Regions from separate parts of the Homo sapiens genome. Here all the other regions are linked to region 3. Evidence: fine-mapped expression QTL. A gene starts in region 3. Each other region holds a variant in brackets. All regions are shown on one strand. Distances are between the middles of the regions.

The links. PIP is the estimated chance that this variant, and not a neighbour inherited with it, causes the effect. A credible set is the group of variants that fine-mapping cannot tell apart.
Region 1: its variant is the best candidate, but not a certain one, in a credible set for the expression of PDXDC1 in spleen (GTEx, PIP 0.78).
Region 2: its variant is the best candidate, but not a certain one, in a credible set for the expression of PDXDC1 in tibial nerve (GTEx, PIP 0.56).
Region 4: its variant is the best candidate, but not a certain one, in a credible set for the expression of PDXDC1 in whole blood (INTERVAL, PIP 0.79).
Region 5: its variant is the best candidate, but not a certain one, in a credible set for the expression of PDXDC1 in cerebellum (GTEx, PIP 0.52).

The regions. Positions count from the first base shown.
Region 1 is chr16:15,790,518-15,795,620 of GRCh38, reverse strand. The region is part of intron 4 of MYH11 (myosin heavy chain 11); the gene reads left to right. Among named protein-coding and RNA genes, the nearest start is that of MYH11, 64 kb to the left of the region's middle. The variant A/G (reference allele first, on the strand shown) is at 3,105.
Region 2 is chr16:15,310,864-15,315,966 of GRCh38, reverse strand. No RefSeq gene overlaps it. Among named protein-coding and RNA genes, the nearest start is that of NPIPA5, 65 kb to the left of the region's middle. The variant T/C (reference allele first, on the strand shown) is at 3,092.
Region 3 is chr16:14,971,913-14,977,015 of GRCh38, reverse strand. It overlaps PDXDC1 (pyridoxal dependent decarboxylase domain containing 1), which reads right to left and starts at 1,990. Exons shown (of 23, transcript NM_015027.4): 1 at 1,796-1,990. The coding sequence starts at 1,816. RefSeq lists an enhancer at 1,909-2,672 and a silencer at 2,830-3,124.
Region 4 is chr16:15,009,571-15,014,673 of GRCh38, reverse strand. PDXDC1 (pyridoxal dependent decarboxylase domain containing 1) reads right to left here. Exons shown (of 23, transcript NM_015027.4): 8 at 4,915-4,993. It overlaps MIR1972-1 (microRNA 1972-1), which reads left to right and starts at 4,277; the gene lies at 4,277-4,353. RefSeq lists a silencer at 1,559-1,664. The variant A/G (reference allele first, on the strand shown) is at 2,999.
Region 5 is chr16:14,870,385-14,875,482 of GRCh38, reverse strand. NOMO1 (NODAL modulator 1) reads right to left here. Exons shown (of 31, transcript NM_014287.4): 17 at 3,799-3,862; 18 at 3,154-3,249; 19 at 229-447; 20 at 61-143. Among named protein-coding and RNA genes, the nearest start is that of MIR3179-1, 29 kb to the left of the region's middle. The variant A/G (reference allele first, on the strand shown) is at 2,564.

The sequences.
Region 1 (5,103 bases), 820 kb before region 3:
TTTGTTTTTGAGATGGAGTTTTGCTCTCATTGCCCAGGCTAGAGTGCAATGGCGTGATCTTGGCTCACAGCAACCTCCACCTCCCAGGTTCAAGTGATTCTCCTGCCTCAGCCTCCCGAGTAGCTGGGATAACAGGCATGTACCACCATGCCTGGCTAATTTTGTATTTTTAGTAGAGACAGGGTTTTGTCATGTTGGTCAGGCTGGTCTCGAACTCCTGACCTCAGGTGACCCGGGGAGCCTCGGCCTCCCAAGTGCTGGGATTACAGGCATGAGCCGCTGAGCCTGGCCCATCCTGCAGTTTGTTGTTGTTGTTGATTTTTTTGTTGAGACAGAGTCTCACTCTGTTGCCCAGGCTGGAGTGCAGTGGTGCGATCTTGGCTCACTGCAACCCCCGCCTCCTGGGTTCAAGCAATTCTCCTGCCTCAGCTTCCCGAGTATTATGCCATCATGCCCAGCTAATTTTTGTATTGTTAATAGAGATGGGTTTTCTCCATGTTGGCCAGCCTGGTCTCAAACTCCTGATCTCAGGTGATCCACCCACCTCAGTCAGCCTCCCAAAGTGCTGGGATTACAGGCATGAGCCACTTCGCCCAGCCCATCCTGCAGTTCTGATTCTCCCCACACTGGTTCTAAAGTCCCGTTCCCCTCGTGAAATGGTTTCCTGCACCCATGAGAATAAAACTCAGATTCCTTACTGTGACTTGGAAGACTGAGTGTGATCTGCTCTTCCCTCTTCACTTCCTGCTGTCCTCCTCTGTTGTGGCCCTCCAGCCATGCTGGGAGCCATTCTGTCTCATACCTGGGCCCAGCATTTCCCTCCCTTGGACCTCTGTCCATACTGTTTGCCCTGCCTGGCCCACCCTTCCCTCCATCCTTCCCACAGGGCTCTCTTGTAACTTTCAAGGCTCAGCAACTCCCTGGCTTCCCCATCCACAGCCTCCCCTCTCCTCCCTTCCCCTCGATCTTCTCAGTCACATCACCCAGATGTAGCAATGATATCTCCACCACGAACTATCTTGATTATTTGTTTACTTGGCTATTGTGTATCTCCATCTCCTGGAATGCAGCGTTAGCAAGGACTTGGCACACTGCCCACACACAGCCAGTGCTGGAGAAGGAGGCCTTAGCCATTGTTAGGAAGGAAATCCCAAAACGATCAGACTTTTATTTGCAAATGCATCCAGTCAGCCCAGAACCACCAACATCTTCAGTCTCTGTATTCAATTTTATTTTGCTTGTTGTGAAATTCAGCCAAAGTGACTTGAAGGACCTACAAGTTGACAGCAGGGCTGAGCTTTTACGCGTAGTTGGTGCTTAAGAGAAGCCAGGCTGGAGCCAACTGTTTGGTTATGCAGTTAAGAAACTGAAAATTGGCCGCGCACTGTGGCTCAGGCCTGTAATCCCAGCACTTTGGGAGGCCGAGGCGGGCGGATCACGAGGTCAGGAGTTCGAGACCATCCTGGCTAACACGGTGAAACCCCATCTCTACTAAAAAAATACAAAAAAATTAGCTGGGCATGGTGGCGGGTGCCTGTAGTCCCAGCTATTCAGGAGGCTGAGGCAGGAGAATGGTGTGAACCTGGGGGGCGGGGCTTGCAGTTAGCAGAGATCGCACCACTGCACTCCAGCCTGGGTGACAGAGCGAGACTCTGTCTCAAAAAAAAAAAAAAAAGAAAAGAAAAGAAACTGAAAATTGGCCACGCACCGTGGCTCACGCCTGTAATCCCAGCACTTTGGGAGGCCGAGGCGGGTGGATCACGAGGTCAGGAGTTCGAGACCATCCTGGCTAACACGGTGAAACCCCATCTCTACTAAAAAAAATACAAAAAAATTAGCCGGGCATGGTGGCGGGTGCCTGTAGTCCCAGCTATTCAGGAGGCTGAGGCAGGAGAATGGCGTGAACCTGGGGGGCGGAGCTTGCAGTGAGCTGAGATCACGCCAGTGCACTCCAGCCTGGGTGACAGAGCGAGACTCTGTCTCAAAAAAAAAAAAAAAAAAAAAAGAAAAGAAAAGAAACTGAAAATTGGCTGGGTGTGGTGGCTTATGCCTGGAAACTCAGGGCCTTGAGAGGCCGAGGCGGGAGGGTGGCTGGAAGCCAGAAGTTTGAGACCAAACTGAGGAACACAGTAAGACCCCATTACTACAAAAAATTTAAAAATTAGCTAGGTGGGATGGTGCATGCCTGTAGTCCCAGCTACTCAGGAGGTTGGGGAGGGAGGATCACTTGAGCTTGGGAGTTAGAGGCTAAGTGAGCTATGATGGCACCACTGCACCTCAGCCTGGGCAACAGAGCAAGACCCAGAGACAGGAAGGAAGGAAAGGAAGGGAAGGAAGACAAGAAAGGAAGGAAACTGAAAGCTGAATAAATGTAATTTTTAGGCCTGAGTTGTATTTTGTCTAGCATGTAATCCATCCAGTATAATCAGTTTAATTAGAGGCCATGGGCCTGGCTGGAGATAGAGCTGTGTGATCAGGGGGCTAAAGTAAGAGGAGGAGGGTGGTTTCACATAAAATTAGAGAGAGGTAAGGGGGTGCTTCCAGGCCCTGGGGAGGAGTTTAAACTTTCGTCTAAAATGGATGACAGGCTGGGCATGGTGGCTCATGCCTGTAATCCTAGCACTTCGGGAGGCCAAGGCAGGCTGATCGCTTGAGCTCAGGAGTTCAAGACCAGCCTGGCCAACATGGCCAAACCCCCTCTCTACAAAAACAAAAATTAGCTGAGCGTGATGGCATGTGCCTGTAGTCCCAGCTACTTAGGAGGATGAGGCAGGAGGATCTCGGTTCACTGAGCCTGGGAGGCAGAAAGTTGGCACTGAGCCAAGACTGCACCACTGCACTTCAGCCTGGGTGACACAGTGAGACCCCATCTCAAAAAATATATATAACAATAAAATAAATAAATGAAATGGATGAGAACGTGCTAAGGGACTCAAGCCAAGGAAGGACAAAGTTTAACCAGTGGGTCAAATCAGGCCCTTGTCTGTCTGTTCCAGATAAAGTTTTATTGAAACACAGCCGCACCCACTTGTTTACGTATTTGCTTTTGTGCTGCAGTGGAGAGCTGAGCAGATGTGACAAAGAATGCGTGACCCTCAAAGTCT[A/G]AAATATTTACTGTCTGACCTTTTACAAAAAGAGTTTGCTAACTCCTAGCTTAAACAGTGGGAAAATGTGAATATTATTTATATTGTAATGATAGGATGAATGCTGAAAATCATTATACAAACAATATATAACTTCTGTGGAAGCAGTGGTTATAAAAGTAATAATAGGTGGGCACAGTGGCTCACACCTGTAATCCCAACACTTTAGGGGGCCGAGGCAGGAGGATTGCCTGAGGCCTGGAGTTCAAGACTATCCTGGGCAACTTAGCGAGACCCCACAAAATCAAAAAATTAGCTAGGTGTAGTGGCACATGCCTGTCATCCCAGCTACTCAGGAGGCTGAGGTGGGAGGGTCACTTGAACCCAGGAGTTCGAGATTGCAGTGAGTCAAGATTGTGCCACTGCACTCCGGCCTGAGCAAGAAGCAAAACTCTGTCTCAAAAAACAAAAGTAATAATAACTAACATTTTGGCATACCAGGCATTGTTCTAAGCATTTTATATAAATGTTCACTCATTTAATCCTCATAAGAATCATATAAAAGGTCAGGCATGGTGGCTCATGCCTGTAGTCCCAGCACTTTGGGAGGCTGAGGCTAGAGATCACTTGAGACCAGGAGTTCGAGACCAGCTTGAGCAACATAGCGAGACCCCTGTCTCTACAGAAAATTTAAAAATCAGCCAGCTGTGGTGGTGTGCACCTGTAGTCCCAGCTACCTGGGAGATTGGGGCAGGAGTATCACTTGAGCCTAGGAATTCTCAGCTGCAGTGAGCTATGATTGCATCACTGCACTCCAGCCTGGGCCACAGAGTGAGATCTTGTCTCAAAAAAAAAAAAAAAAAAATCATACAAGGTAAGTGTTTTTATTATACCCATTTTATAATGGGGTAAAGAAACTGAGGTATGGAGAGGCTAAATGACTTGCCTAAGGTCACCCAGGTAACTGGCAGAGGAGGGATTTGAACTTGAGCAACCTGGTCCTGGAGCCCATTATGCTATTCTGCCAATTGATGCTATAGGGGAGAGAGGCGTTGCTTCTGCCTGGGGTTTTGCAGGACGTGTAGGAGTTGTACAGTACAAAATGCCAGGGTGCTTTGCCAGTCACATAAAGACCAGGGACTGAATAGCTGTGAGGTTCATCAGAGACAATTTGGCTTTCCTACCAGTGGCAAACCACAGGCTGCAATGGACTTGGCAATATTCGACCCTGGGAGCCAGGACCAGCTGCAGAATTTGTAGAATTTTGCAAAATGAAAATGCTGGCTGAGTGCAGTGACTCACACCTGGAATCCCAGCACTTTGGGAGGCTGAGGCGGGCAGATCACATGAGGTCAGGAGTTCGAGGCCAGCCTCGCCAACATGGTGAAATCCCATCTCTACTAAAAATATAAAAATTACCCAGGCATAGTGGCGGGCACCTGTAGTTCCAGCTACTTGGGAGGTTGAGGCAGGAGAATCACTTGAACCTGGGAGGTAGAGGTTGCAGTGAGCCGCCATCACACACTGCACTCCAGCCTGGGCAATAGAGCAAGAGTCAGTCTCAAAAAAAAAAAAAAAAAAAGAAAAGAAAAAAAATGCAGAGCGTTTATAAAGAATTAGGAAGAATTTCCAGATGGCAACATTAGAGTATGAAGCACAGGGTGGTCCCTGTGAGACGGTACAGGTCACACTCATGAAGCCAGCCTGGCTGGGGGATTAAGTGGCCATTGGGTGGTTCTTCCCAGCTGCTGGGGCTGGACTGATTAAAAGGACTTGGCACTGGGGTAGTTACAAGGCCAGGAGGCCATAACGTGGTCATGAGTCTGGTCCTTCTCCGGGAAGAGGGAGCTCAGTACCAAATTCCCCAAGAAATAAGAAAGGAGTTTAGGGTGCTCAGACCAGGAAGGCATCTTCACCCCTAGAGGTCAGGGGTCAGAAAAGCCAAGCTATGAATGTTTCTAGAACCAGCTCTAAGCACATCAACCTTCAGACGCCCACGAGCCTGGAGCTTGGGATGTTT
Region 2 (5,103 bases), 340 kb before region 3:
GCTATCTCGTTCTATTGCCTCTCTGGGCCTAATAATTTAAAAGGCTTGTATTCCTCAGATGAAAGTTCTGTTCTTTTCTCAGCACCTTGAATGGCTGGAGAGAGCACCACCCCATCCTTGACCATGCTGAGTGCTGGCTGGACTTCAACTGGGCCAGTACTCCCTTTTCCCTTGTGGAAGGTCCCCTGATTAATGCTTACCTGAACGCCTGCTCTTCCTTCAGTCCCCAGTTCTCTGCATTCCCCAGCACTGGGAACAGAGACAGCATGTCTGTGTTATACAATAGGGAAGAGTATGGGCTCTGGCTTTAAACTTTGACTCTGCCCCCTTGTTAGCCCAGCGACTGTGAGCAAGTCATTTCACTTCACCCAACTTGTTTTCCTTTTTGTACATTGGAGGTTACTAAAAGCACCTTACCTGTCCAATTGTAGAGAGGATTAGGTGTATTAATGGGCATGGCACAGTAAACACTCACAAAATGCTAGCTACTATTAATTGTCAAGATTATGTTGGTTGCAAGGAGCAGAAACTCATATGGAAGTCATTTAGGCAATAAAAGGGGATAATTTATTGACTCTCATAACCAAATCCAGGAAGGTAGGAGAGCAGTTGAGTGGCAGGGGCAACTGGAAAGAGACCATTCCCCATGTCTGTCTGTCTTTCATATCTTTTTTATTTTTATATATGTATTTTTTTACCATGGTGGGTTTTTTTTGTTTCTTTTCTTTTTTTGGTTGTTTTTTCCATCCTTGGCTAGAACCATGGCTGCCAACAAGCTTCTCTGTTTCATAATGGGAGACCTTCTCATGTGGTTATGATGTGAAAAAAATCCCAGGGAAGGACTCTGATTGGTTCAGCTCAGGTCACATAGCCACCCACGTGGCCAGGTCAGGGGCTGGGGTGCTTAGGTGGGGCAGTGGGTTCTGGGTAGATAAAAATAATTAATGCCTTCTGCCTTATCTAAATGTTCTTTGTACTATGCCTGGCACTTGGTAGAAATTAAACAAATTCCCCTTTTTCCCTTTCTGTTTGACCCTCATGTCTACTTTTTATTACATAAAAGAGTAATCCAGAAAAGAAAGTCAGCTCATTGGAGACACTGGGTAGGGAGAAAAAGCTTTTTATAGAATATTAGGTAGGTGTAGTGGCTTAGGATGGTAAGAGCTCTGCACGAAAGGAAGACATTACAGTCTAAGGCCACCTGAGAGATCTGAGTCAAGCAGCTCTATCCCTTCCTGAGGACAAAAGAGATTTCAGGCAATGACTCATATTTGTTTGGAGAGCTAATTGACAAGACATATTAAGAGTTTTAGCAATTGTTCATGCTTTTTGATCCAACAAATTCACTTCTAGAGTGTCAAGAACTGTGCTGGTCTAAGATATTATCCTACATGGAGGCTAGTGAGTTTTATGGATGTGGGCAGAAGACATGAGACTCTGGATTGAGAGATAAAGGACTTTATTTTTCATGGCACAACAGGAAGCTTGAGCTTCATGTCTGCACCAGTTCCCTTTGACCCCCAAGTCCCTCAAGGGTGACACAGGTTGACATGGTTTGGCTGTGTCCCCACCCAAATCTCATCTTGAATTGTAGTTCCCACAATCCCCATGTGTCATGGAAGGGACCCAGTGGGAGGTAATTTAATCATGGGGGCAGTTATCTTCATGCTGTTCTTATGATAGTGAATGAGTTCTCACAAAATCTGATGGTTTTATACGGGGCTTTTTCTTCTTTTGCTCATTCTTCCCCTTTCTGCCGCCATGTGAAGAAGGACATGTTTGCTTTCCCTTCTGCCATGATTGTAAGTTTCCCGAGGCCTCCCTGAGTCAATTAAATCTCTTTCCTTTATAAATTACTCAGTCTAGGGTATGTTTTTTGTTTGTTTGTTTTTTTGTTTTTTTTGAGACAGAGTTTCACTCTTGTCGCCCAGGCTGGAGTGCAATGGCAGGATCTCAGCTCACCCCAACCTCTGCCTCCCAAGTTCAAGCAATTGTCCTGCCTCAGCCTCCTGAGTAGCTGGGATTACAGGCATGTACCACCACACCCAGCTAATTTTGTATATTTAGTACAGATGGGATTTCTCCATGTTGGTCAGGCTGGTCTTGAACTCCTGACCTCAGGTGATCTGCCCACCTCAGCATCCCAAAGTGCTGAGATTACAGCCATGCCTAGCCTTTTTTTTTTCTTTTTTTGAGACAGAATCTCACTCTGTCGCCCAGGCTGGAGTGCAGTGGCGCATTCTTGGCTCACTGCAACCTCCACCTCCCGGGTTCAAGCGATTCTCCCACCTCAGCCTCCTGAGTAGCTAGGATTATAGGTGTGCACCACAATGCCTGGCTAATTTTTTGTATTTTAGTAGAGATGAGGTTTCACCATGTTGCCCAGGCTGGTCTCAAACTCCTGAGCTCAGGCAATCTGCCCACCTCGGCCTCCCAAGGTGTTAGGATTACAGGTGTGAGACACCACATCCAGCCTTGGGTATGTTTTTATTAGCAGTGTGAGAAATGAGTAATACACGGATGGATCCAGGTAGAATCTGTGCCTGCAGTGGATTTGCATCACACCTGAGGAACCCCAAGTTTAGGAATCTTGGTCTTTTCAACCTTTACCCTGGATGGAGGGAGACATTGTCATTATAATCCTTTCTTTTTCTTTTTCTTCTTCTTTTTTTGTTTTTTGTTTTTTTTGAGGTAGAGTCTTGCTCTGTCACACCCATGTTGGAGTGCAGTGGTATGATCTTAGCTCATTGCAACCCCTGCCTCTTGGGTTCAAGCAATTCTCCCACCTGTCTCCCAAGTAGCTGGGATTACAGGCACCCACCACCACACCCAGCTAATTTTTTAAGTGTTTGTAGTAGAGACGGGGGTTTCACCATATTAGCCAGGCTGGTCTCGAACTCCCAACCTCAGGTCATCTGCCTGCCTCAGCCTCACAAATTGGTGGGATTACAGGCATGAGCCACTGCGCCTGGTCCGGAGATATTATTATTATAATCCTAATCAGCAAATAAATCTGTCTTCTACTATATTAGCCCTATCTTCCAATGCTATTAGCTATACAAACATCCTTATAAAGACGGTCTAGAACAAA[T/C]GCTGACACAAGATGTGCAGAAATGTAAGAGACACATGGGGAATTGTTGCACAGCATAGAGAATCTTTCCTAAGGAAACTACATCTGAAACACACACAGAAAATGTATGCTTAAAGCAACAATAGTTCAGCATTAGGGGAAGAGGTTAAACAGACTGTTGTTGGGATATTCTTCTGTTTCTAAACATGTTTCTGAAGATCTTGGAATGGGAAGTGTAAACGTTCAACTTAAAATGTAAAGTGGAACAAAAAGCTGCAAAACTTGAATGTATGTTTTTATTAACTACGTAGAGACATCTATTCTAGGACAACCTGAGGGGAGACTTGCTAAGATGTTCATAGTCCTCCTCTGGGCAGTGAGTCTAGGATCCACTGTTTTTCTTCATTTGGAATGTTCATAGTCTTTCTCTGGGCAATGAGTCTAGGATCCACTGTTTTTCTTCATTTGGAATGTTCATAGTCCTCCTCTGGGCAGTGAGTCTAGGATCCACTGTTTTTCTTCATTTGGAATGTTCATAGTCTTTCTCTGGGCAATGAGTCTAGAATCCACTGTTTTTCTTCATTTGGAATGTTCATAGTCCTCCTCTGGGCAATGAGTCTAGGAGCCACTGTTTTTCTTCATTTGGAATGTTCATAGTCTTCCTCTGGGCAATGAGTCTAGGAGCCACTGTTTTTCTTCATTTGGAATGTTCATAGTCTTCCTCTGGGCAATGAGTCTAGGAGCCACTGTTTTTCTTCATGTGGAATATTCATAGTCCTCCTCTGGGCAATGAGTCTAGGAGCCACTGTTTTTCTTCATGTGGAATGTTAATAGTCTTCCTCTGGGCAATGAGTCTAGGAGCCACTGTTTTTCTTCATTTGGAATGTTCATAGTCTTCCTCTGGGCAATGAGTCTAGGAGCCACTGTTTTTCTTCATTTGGAATGTTCATAGTCTTCCTCTGGGCAATGAGTCTAGGAGCCACTGTTTTTCTTCATGTGGAATGTTCATAGTCCTCCTCTGGGCAATGAGTCTAGGATCCACTGTTTTTCTTCATGTGGAATTTTTTTTTTCAGTTTTTCTATAATGAACATGTATTACTTTTATAATAGAAAATAACAAGATAAATTATTTCTGAAAGCAGTGCCCAGCATCCAGAATTTGGCAAAAACAGGAGAAGAAAGCATAAAACAAGCAGGGAAAAAGGTTTTCAGTTAAATTAGATGTCCAATTAAGAGATCAGCTTGGCTGCAAAATATCTTTTTGACAGACAATTAGTTCTGGGCAAGTCAAATGTTTCAACAGTGCGTTCTTCTGGGGCAATTAAAGTAATTCATACTTGACGTGCGGAAATGTGGTAATTGGGAAAGTTCCCCAAATGGCAGTTGAAACTGGGCTGGTTGTGTTTGGAGAAGTTAAGTCATGCCCTTGACAAGCCATCTATCTGAGTCTACTGAAGAGGGCTTGGGCTGGGTGATTTTAAGATGGAATTTTCCACTGGGCATAGGAAGTGATGTTGGGAATGGAATAGAAGGGTCAACAGTGACAACATTAACAGCATTTATTGTAATATAAATACAGTTGGCCCTTGAACAACATGGATTTGAACCACATGGGTCCACTTATACATGGATTTTTTTCTGTTTTTGCCACCTCTGAGACGGCAAAACCAATTCCTCCTCTTCCTCCTCTTCCTCAGTCTCCTCAATGTGAAGACAATGAGGATGAAGACGTTTATGATGATCCACTTCCACTTAATGAATAACAAATACATTTTCTCTTCCTTATGATTTTCTTAATCATATATTGTTTTCTCTGGCTTATTTTATTGTAAGAATACAGTGTATAATCATCTAAAATACAACATATGTGTCTATTGTTTGTGTTATTGGTAAGACTTCTGGTCAACAATAGGCTATTAGTAGCTACGTTTTGGGGGAGTCAAAAGTTATAGGTGGATTTCCAACTGTGAGGGGGTTGGCATCACAATCATTCATGGGTCAAACATTGTGTCAATAACAATCATACCACACAT
Region 3 (5,103 bases):
GCAGGATTCTGACCCACCCTGCAGATTTTCCTATAAAGGCTAATTATTCCTGGAGGAAAGATCACCCCAGTTCTTCAGGATTCCAATTACAATCACATGAAGCCCACCCACCTTCTTAGGAAATTGATAACACCACTTTGCATCGTTTTGTACTCAACTGCTGGTGTTATAAACATGATCTTGACCAGGATTTCTCAGCCTCAACACTGCTGACATTTTGGGCCAGAGAATTCTCCAGCGTGGGGGGCTGTCCTGTGCAACGTAGGATGTTTAGAGGCGTCCCTGGCCTCTACCCACTAGGTACCGGCAGCACCTCCCTGCCCCCATTGTGACAATCAAAACTATGTCCAGAGATAGCCAAATGTCTCCTGGGGAAATAAATTGCCCCCTGCTTTAAGAACCACTCATCTGGACAAACTCAAAGTACCAAAAGGTAGACACCCTGCTAATCAGACGACCGGAAAGACTTTATTCCCAGCCAGGAAAACACGTAACATTCACCCCAGAGATGGCACAAGAAAACCATATTATCTTTTTCTTGTCTTCCACCCAATTTATGCTAAGCAACCCAGGAGTAGGCTATACCACTGTGAGCACATGAAGACATCTGGCCCAACCTTTACAATTATTGCCTTCAACTCTCCAGTGACAAGTGAACAAAATCTACAGCAGCTGCTGCCTTGAAAAAAGACAAAATATATTATTCCTACCAGCTCAAAATTAAAATGTAGCCGTCTTAAAACACGAGCATTGCTCCTGAATGCCACATGCATGAAAAACCGGGTATGCACTGGATTGGACAAGCAGACTCCCAAGCTGGAACAGACAGAAGGGCTTTGAGGGAGGGCAGAATGTCAGGTACCGAAAGCAGGAATCCGTGAAGAAACCCAAACTGGTTTCCATTTACAAGCCCTAACACTGGGACAATGAGAATCCGTTTCACATGGTAGAGCAGTCAGCCTGGTACACCACGCTGCCGTTCCCCCAAGGGGAAACCAGAGGTAGGCTCTGTTACCAGTGGATTTCGAGTTGACTCGGGGATCCCTCCTCGCCACTGGAATGGGGGAGCCAGGAAGTTGTGGAGCAGCTGCGATCCCCAAAACTCAATTCGCAATCTACGCAACACCCACCCCTTTCTGGAACTCAGAGGTTCTCGCCCGGTGATCGCAGGCTCAGCATCAGAATCACCTGCGTGGGGCGGAGTGGGAGCGGGGCGGTGGCGGTTAAACACGCAGTTCCCGGTCCCGCCCCCAGAGGTTCTGACCCCGGGACTGAACCTCCGCATTTTACCAAAGGCCCCAGGTGATTCCCACTCAGGCTGAAGTTGGAAAACCACTGCTTTGGCAATTTTCATTCCTAACTCGGAGACCAAGAAAAACCTACAGGTTTGCAGCTGGCTCTGAAATAACTGCGGCTTCTTTCCGGGAGCATCTGGGGCCGCCAACGGAGAGCTCCCGGTCCTCCGAAAGGGCCAGCCGAGCTCAGGCCGGCCACTCGCGGAACCTCGGCAGGGCCCAAGGTCGGCCCCGCGGTCCCAGTCCTGGGCTCCGGGCCCGTCGCGGCCCCCACCGAACCCCGCCCAGCCTCTTCGGCCCACGGGGACCCAAGAGACACCCGGCCCCGTGACGCGCCCGGGCCCCAGCCGCCCTCCCGGCGAGGCCTCCTCAGGCAGGGCCTGTCAGCCCGCGTCCCCCTGTCCGGGTCACAATGGCAGCTCGCGACTGGGAAACAGTTGCCTCGGAAGCGGGAGCCCCGGGCCGCAGCACCGTCCCCATCGCCCCCTCCCGGCACGGACCTTCTCCAGGGACGCGTCCATGGCTGAGGCGGCCGGTGGTGGCCTGGCGGTCCCGGGCTCTACTTCCTCCTCCCGCGCCCCGCAGCTCCTTCCACGCTGGCAGCGCTGACGTCCCCCGCGCCCGCGGCCGGCGGGGCGGAGAAGAGGAGGAGCTGCCAGGCGGCGCCGCGGGCTGCCGAACCTGATGGTTGAGAGGCGGCGGGGCGGGGCCCCGTAGCGCTGGGCGGAGCCCTCTGGGATTCCGTACCTGGGCGCCACGCCGGCCCTCCCTAACGTGCGCAGGTGAAGGGGGGAGGATGCCCGGTGGATTGTTCACCAAACTCTTTCCAGCAGCCTGTTGCAATCATCAAGGTAGAAGTATAATAATCACAAAGTACTATTCATGGAGTGAAAGGCTGGAAATACTAGTGACGCACCTCACTTCCGGGCCCAGGCTTCCAAGTCTCCCGCCTCACCTCCCGCCGGCATCCCTCGAGAATGGAACAGGCCATTCGCCAAGGAGGCGGTGAGCGAGTGGGCAACCTTGCGCATGCGCAGGACTCGCAGCGTCCTCGGCGCCCGGGGACTTGGGGGTTTTGGGGTTGGGGGCTGCTTAGTGAACGCTGTTCAGAGAAGGCACTGATCTAAGCTGAGGTGTTGTCTCAGACCTTACCGCCGAATTCTAGACGGAAAAAATTGTTGTAACAACCGGTCCAGCCTCTTTCATGTCACAATTATCACTTGTCAGGTAATGGGTAGTAGTAATAATGATAATATTAATACATCAGCTGCTGTTCTTCCATTTTCCTATTTCAGCAGCTCTAGGAGATCATTATCCCCATTTCGCAGTGCCGATCTAGGTAGGATTCAGACCCAAGCCCCATGAGTCCACATACTGCTTCCACTCCTACTTTACTTTAAATGTTTTAAAAAGTTAATTTTTTATTAATTTTTTTATCTTGTTAACCGATGAACTGAAGAGAAAAAAAATTAAAATCTCATTTTAATAGAGAAGGTAGGGGTGTCTCACTATGTTACCCAAGCTGGCTTCAAACTCCTGGCCTCAGGCGATCTTCCCGTCTCAGCTTCCCCAAGTGCTGGGATTACAGGCATGAGCTACCACGCCCGGCCACTTTTGCAATTTTACTGCAATGTGTTTCGAACGAATGGGGAGGGCGTACATTTGCTTAGTAGATTCCTCCCACCTTAATGTGGGAAACTGATATAGACTACCACAGTGGCAATCAATGGAACACTTCACCTCTGCGATGACGCTACAACCACAATCTTACTCCTTTTCTCTCCTGTTTTATACTCTTCGTCCCGAAATCTGTGTAAACAGGGTCACATTTTCAGCGCAGTAACTCCATGTTTTGAGCTATCTACGTTGTATTTGGTAAATTGCCTGGTTATGTTAATAAAATTATTTTCTACCAAAAAACCCTTGTGTGCTGGTTTAGACTGTACTGTGGGGATTATTCTGACTCTCTAAAGAGCTTTCCAAACAGAAGGAAAGATAGATTTATGTCTTTCAAGAATTGAAGATTGAATGTACCCCTGCTTGAGCAAAACAAGTCACTTTTCCAACGTGTTATGAAATTTTTCAAACGTAGAAAAGTTTAAACAGTTGTACAGTGAACAACCATATACCCACTACCTAGATTCTACAGTTAATTTTCCCTATATTTGCTTTAATCACATATGCATCCATATATCCATCCATCGATATATGTTAGTACATTTCACCTCTGAGCACCTCAGCATGGGTATCATTCAAAACTAGTAAATTTTACTAAAGTCACCTCCAAGTTTCTGTGGATTACATTACAAAGTATAATAGATTCTACAAAACAAATACTAGAGAGAAAAGTTAACTTTACTGTTTTAAAAGTAGACTTTGAAAACCCAACATGAAAAAGTGGAAATAATCAACCGTATTATTTATTATATTTAGCCAAACATTTATTGACTGCCATCTTGGACAGTTGTGCTGGAAATAGTATGTAAAAGAATAAGAGGCTGGTTCAAGAGCAGCCTGGCCAACAGAGTGAAACTCCGTCTCTACTAAAAATACAAAAAATTAGCTGGGCGTGGTGGCAAACACCTGTAATCCCAGCTACCTGGGAGGCTGAGGCAGGGGAATCACTTGAACCCCGGGGGCAGAGGTTGCAGTGAGCCGAGATTGTGCCACTGCGCTCCAGCCTGGGCAATAAGACGAGACTCCATCTCAAAAAACAATAAAAATACAAATAAGAGGCTGGGCCGGGCGCGGTGGCTCACGCCTGTAATCCCAGCACTTTGGGAGGCCGAGGCGGGCGGATCACGAGGTCAGGAGATCGAGACCATCCTGGCTAACACGGTGAAACCCCGTGTCTACCAAAAATACAAAAAGAAATTAGCCGGGCATGGTGGCGGGCGCCTGTAGTCCCAGCTATTCTGGAGGCTGAGGCAGGAGAATGGCGTGAACCCGGGAGGCGGAGCTTGCAGTGAGCAGAGATCGCACCACTGCACTCCAGCCTGGGCGACAAAGCGAGACTCTGTCTCAAAAACAAAATATAATAAAAAATTTAAAAATTTAAAAAAGGCTGGGCGCGGTGGCTCATGCCTGTAATCCCAGCACTTTGAGAGGCCGAGGTGGGCGGATCACCTGAGGTCAGGAGTTGGAGAACAGCGTGGCCAACATGGTGAAACCCTCGTCTGTACTAAAAATAGAAAAATTAGTGGGTGTGGTGGTGTGCGCCTGTAATCCCAGCTACTCGGGAGGCTGAGGCAGCAGAATCGCTTCAACCTGGGAGGCGGAGGTTGCAGTGAGCCAAGATTGCACCACTGCATTCCAGCCTGGACGACAAGAGCAAGACTCCGTCTACACACACACACACACACACACACACACACACACACACACACACACACAAAACAAAGACAAGCTCTCTGCCCTGAAGAAAAACACTATTTTGGGTAGAAGTTTTTACTTTGGGATGCAGATGGAGGTCTCTGAAACTATACTCAACATTTTGTGTGTGAGTGAGTGCATTTTTCTGGGGAAAACATCCATTGTCTTCATTATATACTCAAGTCTGTGATTCCCCCATCCCCGAAAAAAAAAAAAAAAAGTTGAAACCATTTGGCTTGTGGATGCACAGATAGGAAAACTGATACATTATAATGCAACATTCTATGGACTAGTGAAGAGAGATAAGCAGAATATTGTACAGTTTGGAGCATGAAGCCATCAGTTGTGGGGAGGTTTAATCTCTACTGACATATGGCTTTATGTGCTGCTAACAGACCTGTCTTTTTCTTTCTTTTTCTTTTTCCAGACGAGTCTC
Region 4 (5,103 bases), 38 kb before region 3:
GCTAAAGAAAGTAGTTCTTTTGTAAGGTCTATGCCAGGAAAAGGGCTGAAAACTTTTTCCCCTCATACCTAAATCTACCTCAAATTAAAAAAAAAAAATCTTAACAGACACATTTAGTTTAGCTGAAACAAGATCAAATGTCAATGCATGGGCTGTGCCACAGGCTCTTCCAGCAAAATAAAAGCGTACTGCTGTGTTAGTGCCTGGATCGCATGCAGATTCTCTTTTCGTATTTCTTGGCAATGTCTGGTGACTAACCCTTGACATGTGTCTGCTGACATCTGCAACATAATCACACTGGCAAGTCACTCAGTCACATGCAAACTGCAGCCCCTCCAGTTTATCATGTGATTGAATATGGGTGAATTTGTGTTTTTAAACAATAAGGCAGGAAGTGATGGTTTTCCTGTTGGCAATAAAGTGAATATTTATGTGGTTTTTCTATTTTGTCTTTTTTTTTTTTTTTTGAGACAGAGTCTCACCCTGTTGCCCAGGCCGGAGTGCAGCAGCGCAATCTCGGCTCACTGCAATCTCAGCCTCCTGGGTTCAAGCTATTCTCCTGCCTCGGCCTCCTAAGTAGCTGGGATTACAGGTGCCTGCCACCACAACCAGCTAATTTTTATATTTTTAGTAGAGACAGGGTTTCGCCATTTTGGCCAGGCTGGTCTTGAACTCCTGACCTCAGGTGATCTTCCCGCCTTGGCCTCTCAAAGTGCTGGAATTACATGCATGAGCCACCGCACCCGGCCTAAATAAGCAGTTTTATTGTAGTATGATTTTTTTTTTTTTTTTTTTTTTTGAGACAGAGACCCTTTCTGTCGCCCAGGCTACAGTGCGGTGGTGCGATCTTGGCTCACTGCAACCTCCACCTCCCAGGTTCAAGCGATTTTCCTGCCTCAGCCTCCCAAGTAGCTGGGACTACAGGTGCACACCACCACACCTGGCTAATTTTTGCATTTTTAGTAGAGATGGGGTTTTACCACATTGGTCAGGCTGGTCTTGAACTCCTGACCTTGTGATCTGCCTGCCTCAGCCTCCCAAAGTGCTGGGACTACAGGCATGAGCTCTCATGCTCGGCCTATTGTAGTATGATTTACATGCAACAAAACTCACTCATGTAAGTATACGGTCCAATGAGTTTTGACAAATATATAGAGCATGTAACCATCAACACAATCAAGATTCAGAATACTTCCATCAACCCCCAAATCCCATCAACCCCAATATAATTACCCTTTCCCTGACTCCTCACTGGCCCTGGAAAATCCTGATCTGCTTCTGTCACTGTAGTTTTTTGCCTTTTTTTTTTTTTTTCTTTTTTTTTTGAGATAGGGTCTCACTCTGTCGCCCAGGCTGAAGTGCAGTAGCACAATCTCGGCTCATTGCAAGCTCCGCCTCCCGGGTTCAAGCCATTCTCCTGCCTCAGCCTCTCAAGTAGCTGGGACTACAGGTGCCCACCACCACACCTGGCAAGTTTTATTTATTTACTTATTTATTTTTTACAGAAACAGAGTCTCACTCTGTCACCAAGGCTGGAGTGCAGTGGTGCGATCTCACCTCACTGCAACCTCTGCCTCCCGAGTTCATGCCATTCTCCTGCCTCGGCCTCCCAAGTAGCTAGGACTACAGGTGCCCACCACCACACCCAGCTATTTTTTTGTATTTTTAGTGGAAACGGGGTTTCACCATGTTAGCCAGGATGTCTTGATCTCCTGACCTCGTAATCTGCCCGCCTCGGCCTCCCAAAGTGCTGGGATTACAGGCTTGAGTCACTGTGCCTGGCCTGACATTATATTTTAAAGAATTTTTTTTTTTTTTTTTTAAGAAAGGATCTGGCTCTGTCACCCAGGCTGGGGTATGGTAGCACAATCTTGGCTCACTGCAACCTCTCTCTCCTGGGTTCAAGCCAACCTCCCACCAAAGCCTCTGGAGTAGCTGGGACTACAGGTACACACCACCACACCTGGCTAATGTTTAGTATTTTTTGTAGAGATTTCCTAGGGGTTTCGCCATGTTGCCCAGGCTGGTCTCGAACACCTGAGGGCAATTGATCTCGCAGTCTCAGCCTTCCCAAGTGTTGGGATTACAAGTGTGAGCCACCTGTAATTTCTCCATTCTAACAGACATGTAGTAATGTCTCATGGTGATCTTAATTTGCATTTCACTAATGACTAATGATGTTAAACATCTTTTCAAGTGCTATACATTTTCATTTTCTTTGATGAAGTATCTGCTCAAATCTGTTGTTCATTTAAAAAATTGTATTGTGGGCCGGGCACAGTGGCTCACACCTGTAATCCCAGCACTTTGGGAGGCCAAGGCAGGCAGATCACCTAAGGTCAGGAGTTCAAGACCAGCCTGGCCAACACGGTGAAACTCCATCTCCACTAAAAATACAAAAAACTAGCTAGGTGTGGTGGCACATGCCTGTAATCCCAGGTACTCGGGAGGCTAAGGCAGAAGAATCACTGGAACCCGGGAGGCAGAGGTTGCAGTGAGCCAAGATCGCACCACTGCACTCTAGTCTGGGCAACAGAATGAGACTCCATCTCCAAAAAAAAAAAAAATTGTATTGCTTGTGTCCTTATTGAGTTGTAACAGTTCTTTATATATTTTAGATACAAGTTCTTTGTCAAACAAATGTTTTGTAGCTTCTGGGGAAAAGAATGAAAAAGAAATTTTAAAAGAAGACAGGACTGGGACAGTGGCTGGCTGAGTGTGGCGGCTCACGCCTGTAATCCCATCACTTTGGGAGGCCAAGGCAGGTGGACCACCTGAGGTCAGGAGTTTGAGACCAGCCTGGCCAACATGGCGAAATCTCGTCTCTACTAAAAATACAAAAATTAGCCCGGCACGGTGGCGTGCGCCTGTAATCCCAGCTACTCGGGAGGCTGAGGCAGGCGAATCGCTTGAACCTGGGAGGCGGAGGTTGCAGTGAGCCAAGGTCGCACCACTGCACTCCAGCCTGGGCAGCACAGCAAAACTCCATCTCAAAAAC[A/G]TAAAAAATAAAAATAGAAAAAGACAAAAAAAAAAAAAAAAAAAGAAAAAAATGTTTTGCAAATATTTCTCCCAGTCTGTAACTTGCCTTTCATCTTCTTAATAGGGGCTTTCAAACAGCTAATGCTTTTAATTTTTGATAAAGTACAATTTATGGTTCACATATTTTGTATCCTAAGAAATGTAACCTAAGGTCACAAAGATCTCCTGTATTTTCTTTGAGACATTTTATTGTCTTAGATCTATGCTTAGGTTGATGAACCATTTATAGTTAATATTTATATATACAGAGAATAAGATAAGGGTTAAGATTCAGTTTTTTTCCATATGGATATCCAAGCTCTAAGACCACTGATGGAAAAAGATGGTCCTTTCTCCCTCGAATTACTCAGGCATCTGTAAAAACCTGAAGTGTCCATATACTTCACATGAGTCTATTTCTGAATTCTCTATTTTCTTTGGTTAATCTCACACAGTCTTACTTGCTACTTTACAGAAGTCTTGAAGTATGACAAGGTAAGTCTTCCAATTTTGTTCTTTTTCAAAATCCCTTGGGCTGTTCCTAGATCCCTTGTATTTCTATATAAACTTTAGAATTAGCTCATCAAGTTCTATTAAGAAATTGTAGCCTGCTGAGATTTTAAGATGGATCAAGTTGAATCTACAGATTAGTTTGGGAAGAACTGACTTAATACTTAGTCTTCCAACCCGTGTGTATGGCATATCGTTCTTGGGTCTTCTTGAATTTCTCTCAGTAACATTCTTAGTTCTCAATGTACAGATCTTGCATATATTTTGTTAAATTTATCCATAAATTTTTCATCTTTTTTGATCCTATTATAAATGACATTTAAAATTCAATTTCCAATTCTTCTTTGCTAGTATGTAAAAATCCAGAAAATGGTTTAGATTTGATCATTAGTTCCAGTAGCTTTTCTTTAGTTTTCTATCTATACAATCATGCCTGCAAACAAAGTTTTATTTCTTCCTTTCTAATCTGTCAGTTATTTTTTTTGCCTTATTGCACTGTCTTAGATTTCAAGTATGATGCTGAATGAGATAAATGGAGCAGCAAGTGGTAGTTGCTCTGCCGCCTATAAGGTAGATATTTAAGTGTGACATCTTATGAATTTTCTTGTTTAATTTTTACAACAATCTTACAACGTCAGTACAATTATTTTTATTTATTTATTGAGATGGGGTCTTGCTATGTTACCCAGACTGGTATTGAACTTCTGAGCTTAAGCCAACATCTTGCTTGTCTCCTGAGTAGAGGGACTATAGGCATGTGCCACCACACCTGGCTTAAATGTGTCATTTAAAAATTCAGGCCAGGCACAGTGGCTCATGCCTGTAATCCCAGCAATTTGGGAGGCTGAGGCAGGCGGATCACCTGAGGTCAGGAGTTCGAGACCAGCCTGGCCAACATAGTGAAACCCTGTCTCTACTAAAAATACAAGAAATTAGCCAGATGTGGTGGCATGCACCTGTAATCCCAGCAATTCAGGAGGTTGAGGCAGGAGAAACACTTGAACCCGGGAGGCAGAGATTGCAGTGAGGTGAGATTGTGCTACTGCACTCCAGCCTGGGCAACAGAGTGAGACTCTATCTCAAAAAAATAAAATAAAATTCAGTTTAGAACAGGGAAAAGAAGTACATGAAGGAGAAGATAGAGAAGCATTTACCATCTAAATGAAAAAGTATACACACACATAAAATAACTTCCAAAACAAACCAACGATTAAAGAAAAATCTAACGAGCCAACCTTACTATTACAGTTTTTGCTACAATGTGGATATGGACTATCTTAAACATGTGGTACACACACATTTCTTAAGACTTTATCTTTTATAGGCTGAGGACGTAGCCTCGCTCCTATATATTCAAAATGGTAGATTCAGCATCATGCTACCTACCTGCATTTGCGACAAGCAACAGGGGCAGTCTTCCTCGCTCTATATCATCTTTAATCAGTTTCTCCAGGAAGGCAACATCCTGGAACCAAAACAAATCATTAAAAAATGAGGTGCCCAGTATAAAAGCTATAAAATGAAAAATTATGACTTACAAAAGAAGCAGATAACTCTCAAAAGTAATGTCAAATC
Region 5 (5,098 bases), 100 kb after region 3:
GCAGGCAAGGGAACAACTGCAAAGGTGTGTGTGACATTCGCTCGCTGAGTTGACATTTACCTCCACTGACAACGGCTTCCATTGAAGGGGGATAAAAGAGCAGCTCTTTAGATGACGGTGTAACAGTGATTTTCTCTCCAGACCTAAAATAATTAATATACTTCAGTTTGGCGGGTCCTGTCCCCACAAAACAGAGGACACTGTAGGGAAACGCACAAGAGAGCTTACCGCGCCCAGTAAGAGAAATCATACGAGAAGGGGCCTTGTAACTCATCTACCATCTCCTGCACGGGAGGCTTGGTCATTCTTTCTTCGCCTTCCTCATTGCCGTTTTTCTCCCTCTCCTGCCTGCGGGCCTCGATCTCAGCCAGCTGCTGCTCCCTCCGCAGCTCCTGCACAGACTTCAGAGGGCCTAAGACCAAGGCGGGTTCACTGTCGATGGAAGACCTAGAAGAAAGACGGCCCCTAGGACATAGTTGCGTATCCTTGTGGTCAGTGGGAATTTGACCTTTCTACGAGTATGGACTTGCGAGTTACAAACTGGACATCTTATCATGACACCACAGTGGCGGAGTCTTCTGTTTTAAATAAACTAGTAGTTTCACAAAAAATAACAACTGAGCTTCGCAGTGATGGTGGCAGTATCTGGTAGATCTGGGCTGGAATGAAATACGGTTGATTTTATGGCGACTGGATATAAGCTTGTAGCTTCCATGTAGGACATGGAGTTTTCTCCACACCACCATCCTCTGTTCTCCATTCTACCTTCGCTGAGAACTGCTCTGATAGAGAACTAGGCACCAAGGATACAGCATCAACAAAACAGACCACACTTCCTACCCCTGTGGAATCCACGTTTCAATGGGAAGGGGCTGAAAATAAAGAGAAAAATAATACCAGAGGAAAAGTGCAATAAAGAAAAATAAAGCAGTGTGGGAAGACGGAGAGCCCGGAGCACTGTTTTACATTAAAGGGACAGTCAAGGCCTTTCTGATAAGGTGACGTTGAGCAAAGGTCTGAAGGAAGGGAGAGAATGCGCCACGCAGCTCTCTGGGTAAACAGTAGCTTGGGAAAAGCGATGCCAAGTGCAAAGTCCTTGGAGAGAAAGCTCACTCAGATGTTCAAGCAATGGCAACACCAGTCCAGCCTGGGGCACAGGGGCCCACGGAAGAGTCATATCCAACAGAGAGGTCCAAGGGGCAGCAGATGTCAGACTGAGGCTTCACAGGCTTGGTGCCGACCTGGAGCCACTGGAGTTTTCAGTCGAGGAATGGTATGATAAAAGAAATCGTTCGCTCCTTCATGGAAAATACACAAAGCAATGGCGGAAACAGGAAGGCCAGCTGGGAAGCTGCTGCAGTGACCCCAGAGGGGGGTCAGACCAGGGCTGAGGGCCACGTGGTAAGAAGCGAAGCCCAGCTGGGAAGCTGCTACAGTGACCCCAGAGGGGGGTCAGACCAAGGCTGAGGGCCAAGTGGTAAAAAGGGACTAGATGACGGGTGTATTTTGATTGTAAAGCCAAGGCTTTGTTGGGGAATTGGCTGGGCCTAGGGTTCAAGGGAAATAAGAATCAAGAAACAAGGAGAAAGCGGGAGCTGCCATATCTGAATCAGAAAAGACCACAGAGGGGCTCATGGAGGGCAACTGTCAGCAGTCGGGTTTTGGGTCTGCTGAGTACAAGATCCCCAGGGGGAATCCGAGTGGCTCTGTCTAGCTGGAAGATGCATTCCATACAACCTCCGGCACAAGCAAGCAACACAAACACCCTTGTGAAGTTACAAAAATGAATGTAATCAAGCTGAAAGGAGGTAATATGCAGTTACTACTGGTAAGAAGGTAGATTGCTAGTCCTATCAGTAATTCATACTTTCCAAGCAGGGAGACAGTAAATGATAGTAAAAGACAGCAACAGACCTTCGGCAAATCCACCCCCAGCTAAAAACCTGGCTCCCCATCACCAGAAACCAGGGCCAGCCCTGACATTTCTCCCGCCCTAACCCAGTGGTCACTTTAGTGCCATGTCTCATCAACTCAGTCCCTCAACGACTCTCCGACCAGTCCGTCGCTCTCCATCTCCGCAGCCACTAGTCTGGGGCCCCCATTGCCTCCCCCTGCCTCCACCACCTCCCACTCTCAGGCCTCTTCTGTCTGTTCTCCACTCGGCCAATAGGGGGACCTTTCAGGAAGAAAAATGTCATTCCTCTATGTAAAACATGTCAATTGCATCATGGGACAAAGACTATGGACCTTAACATGGCCTGGCCCCCCGCAGCCTACCTGTCCTGCATGCCCCCAAGGTCAAGCTCAAAGCACTCAGAACAGTTGTCATTTACGGTTCTGCATGTGAGTATCTGACCACTGTTCCCCCCATGAGACTGTCAATCCCATAAGTGTAGGGGCTGTGGCCTCATAAGCCCAGTGCCTAAACACTGAAGACTCTCAGTTTTTCAGTCATCATGTACTCTGCAGGGATGACGGATGGATAAACAGATGGTGGACAGAAAGATGGAAACATAGCTGGAAAGGTGACTTCAACCAGGGGCAGGAGGGAGACAGGGACTGC[A/G]ATGCCCATTCTACTTGACAGAGACGGTCATGTTGCCAAAACTCGTTCATTTCTCAAGAAAATTGGGGCGTCACAGGTACCTCACCACACTGCAAAAATTCCCTGAAAGGTGACATTCACATGAACGTGACCTTCGGTGAGGGACTTGCCTTTCAAATACTTCCTCTCTCACGACCCTTCTCTTATACCAGGTGCCATCTCTATTTCCCAAGCCTTCAAGCAAAAGTCTAAAGAAAAATAGGCAATTTGAATTTGCTAAAACACTTGAAATACAATGCACAAACCCCAGAGATTTTTTTTTTCCTTAGCAAAGATGAGAAGTACAAAGAGTTCAAACAGAAATTGAAGACACTGAAACAAGCTGTCGCAACGCTCTTCCTCACCCACAGGTAATTTCTGAATCAGAAAAGGAAAGGATCAAGGCTGCTGGGAATTGACGGCAATGTCCTATAAGAGAGGGAAGGCCATTTGTATATACATCTAGAGATAAGAAATCAAAACTAATTTCCAGAGAGCCTATTAGAGACTCCCCAGGCCTCATCCACACCCTCTCCCGCCACTCTCGGCCCACTGCAGAACGCTCATCTTACTTGATAGTCACAGTGACATCCATCATTTTGTCGGTGGTGATAGTTCCAAGGACATGGTGGCGAATGGCTGTCAATGTCAAGATACTAGGTGAAGACCTACAAATCAAAGCAGAGGAAACGCTAGAACCTACTCATTCTCAGAAGATCATCAGCAATACCCTTTTTGGGCATCCTTCTTCACCCTAAATATACTACAGAAAATTGCTCTTAGTCTGGGGTAAAATAACTCTGGAGATCCAGAGAAGTATTTTAAAGAGTAAACTAATTCTCCACTCCACAACTTTATGCTTCCAATTCCCAGTGAAACCCACACACTTCTGTAAAAATACAAAAATGGCAGACTTGAACTTGACAGACGCCCATCGGTGAGGGCTGGGAGATTTGACAAAGCTTCTATTTAAGGCACTTCAAAAACACAGCCCTCTATCCTGGGGTTACAGAATTCTTGGGAAAGGGATCCTGTCTCCGGTTCCTCAGTAACTAATCCAAGTGTCTTAAAATCCTTATCTAGAAATGCTGTTGAAGGCCTAACCTTGCCTCTTTCAGAAAAAAAAACAGAAAAACTCCTTTTGTTCTCTGAAGTAAATGAAGAATCCTCCACGGAATGTATACAAACACCACAAAGCATTCAATTCCCAGGCTTACGTGTCATAGGTGTAGAACGCTTGCTCAAACCGGTGGCAGGAGCGAGGGGTCACTTTGTACACACCTACAGACAGGAAATCAAAAGTAATTTTCAGAGAATGGCATCTATTACACCGAGCAATTCCGACATCTGAAATCGAGTGGCAGCTCTTTGCATGTGAAAACTCAAACGTATCGCAGATCTGCAATAATGGGATCAGAAATACTGGGCAGGCATCGTTTTCACTGCCTATGAAGGCGTCTTACCAATAACCCGATCCATGCAATGGCGCGATCACAGGCGCATGATTTTCATTTTCCATAAGGTAACAACTCACAGTAGTTAAATCTGCACAGACCAGGTGAACGGACCCATGCACGAGAAGGAACAGAAAGTACGTTTCTACTGCAAATTGGACTGAGGATAATTTCCTACTTAAAAGATTCTATTAAGGATCCAAGAGATAACCACAGCCTCAATTTCTTCCTATAAATATTCCTAAAAAGGAGGTAAGGAGTAAGGGAAGCCCCAGAAAAGTGTGAGTCTGTGTGGGAGGACACTCCGGCTAGGGGTACATTTCATCACTTGCCAGAGGAACACAGTCAATTTCAGGAAGATACAAGGAATAACAATGTATTTCCCCCAAATCATCATTAACCAATATTTTGGCCACACTTCCTACAAAAACCTGAAATTAGCTAAAACCACCCTGCTGTTTTCATTGCACTCAACAAGCCCCAGAGTAGTTACCATCAAAAAAAAAAAAAAAATCAGGTTTCTCTGTTTGTTTTGTTTGGTCTTTCATTCAACAAATATCGACAGAGCACCTCTTCCTGGCCAGGTATTATGCTAGGTACTGGTACACAGTGGGGAATGACAGAGCAGTGGTCCCTGTCTTCATGGAGTTTACCATCCACAGAGAGGGGGAGCATTTGACAGCCACAAACATATCAATTGTGGCACATGCAAGAAGGGGATAGAAGTGAGTGCTGATAGCAAGAGTGTAGGAGGCAGGCCTAAGTGGCCCTGGAGGCCATCCTTCCCCAGGGAAGCAATACTGAACTGATGGGTAAGAAGGCCCCAGCTAGGAGGGGCAGGAGGACATGTCCACAGAGAACAGCATCTGCCTCACAGGCTGGCTCATTGTTTCCTCAACAGGCATCCTTCCTGCCTTGAGAACAAACCCTGGTTATGTTGAGGGTGGCAACGTGCTCAGCCTCGGGTAGCACATCCAACTGTCCCAGCCTCCCTTGCAGCTAGAAGTAACCATGTGGCACGGTTCTGGCCAATAATACAGACAAGTAGCTTACTGGAGGAGAG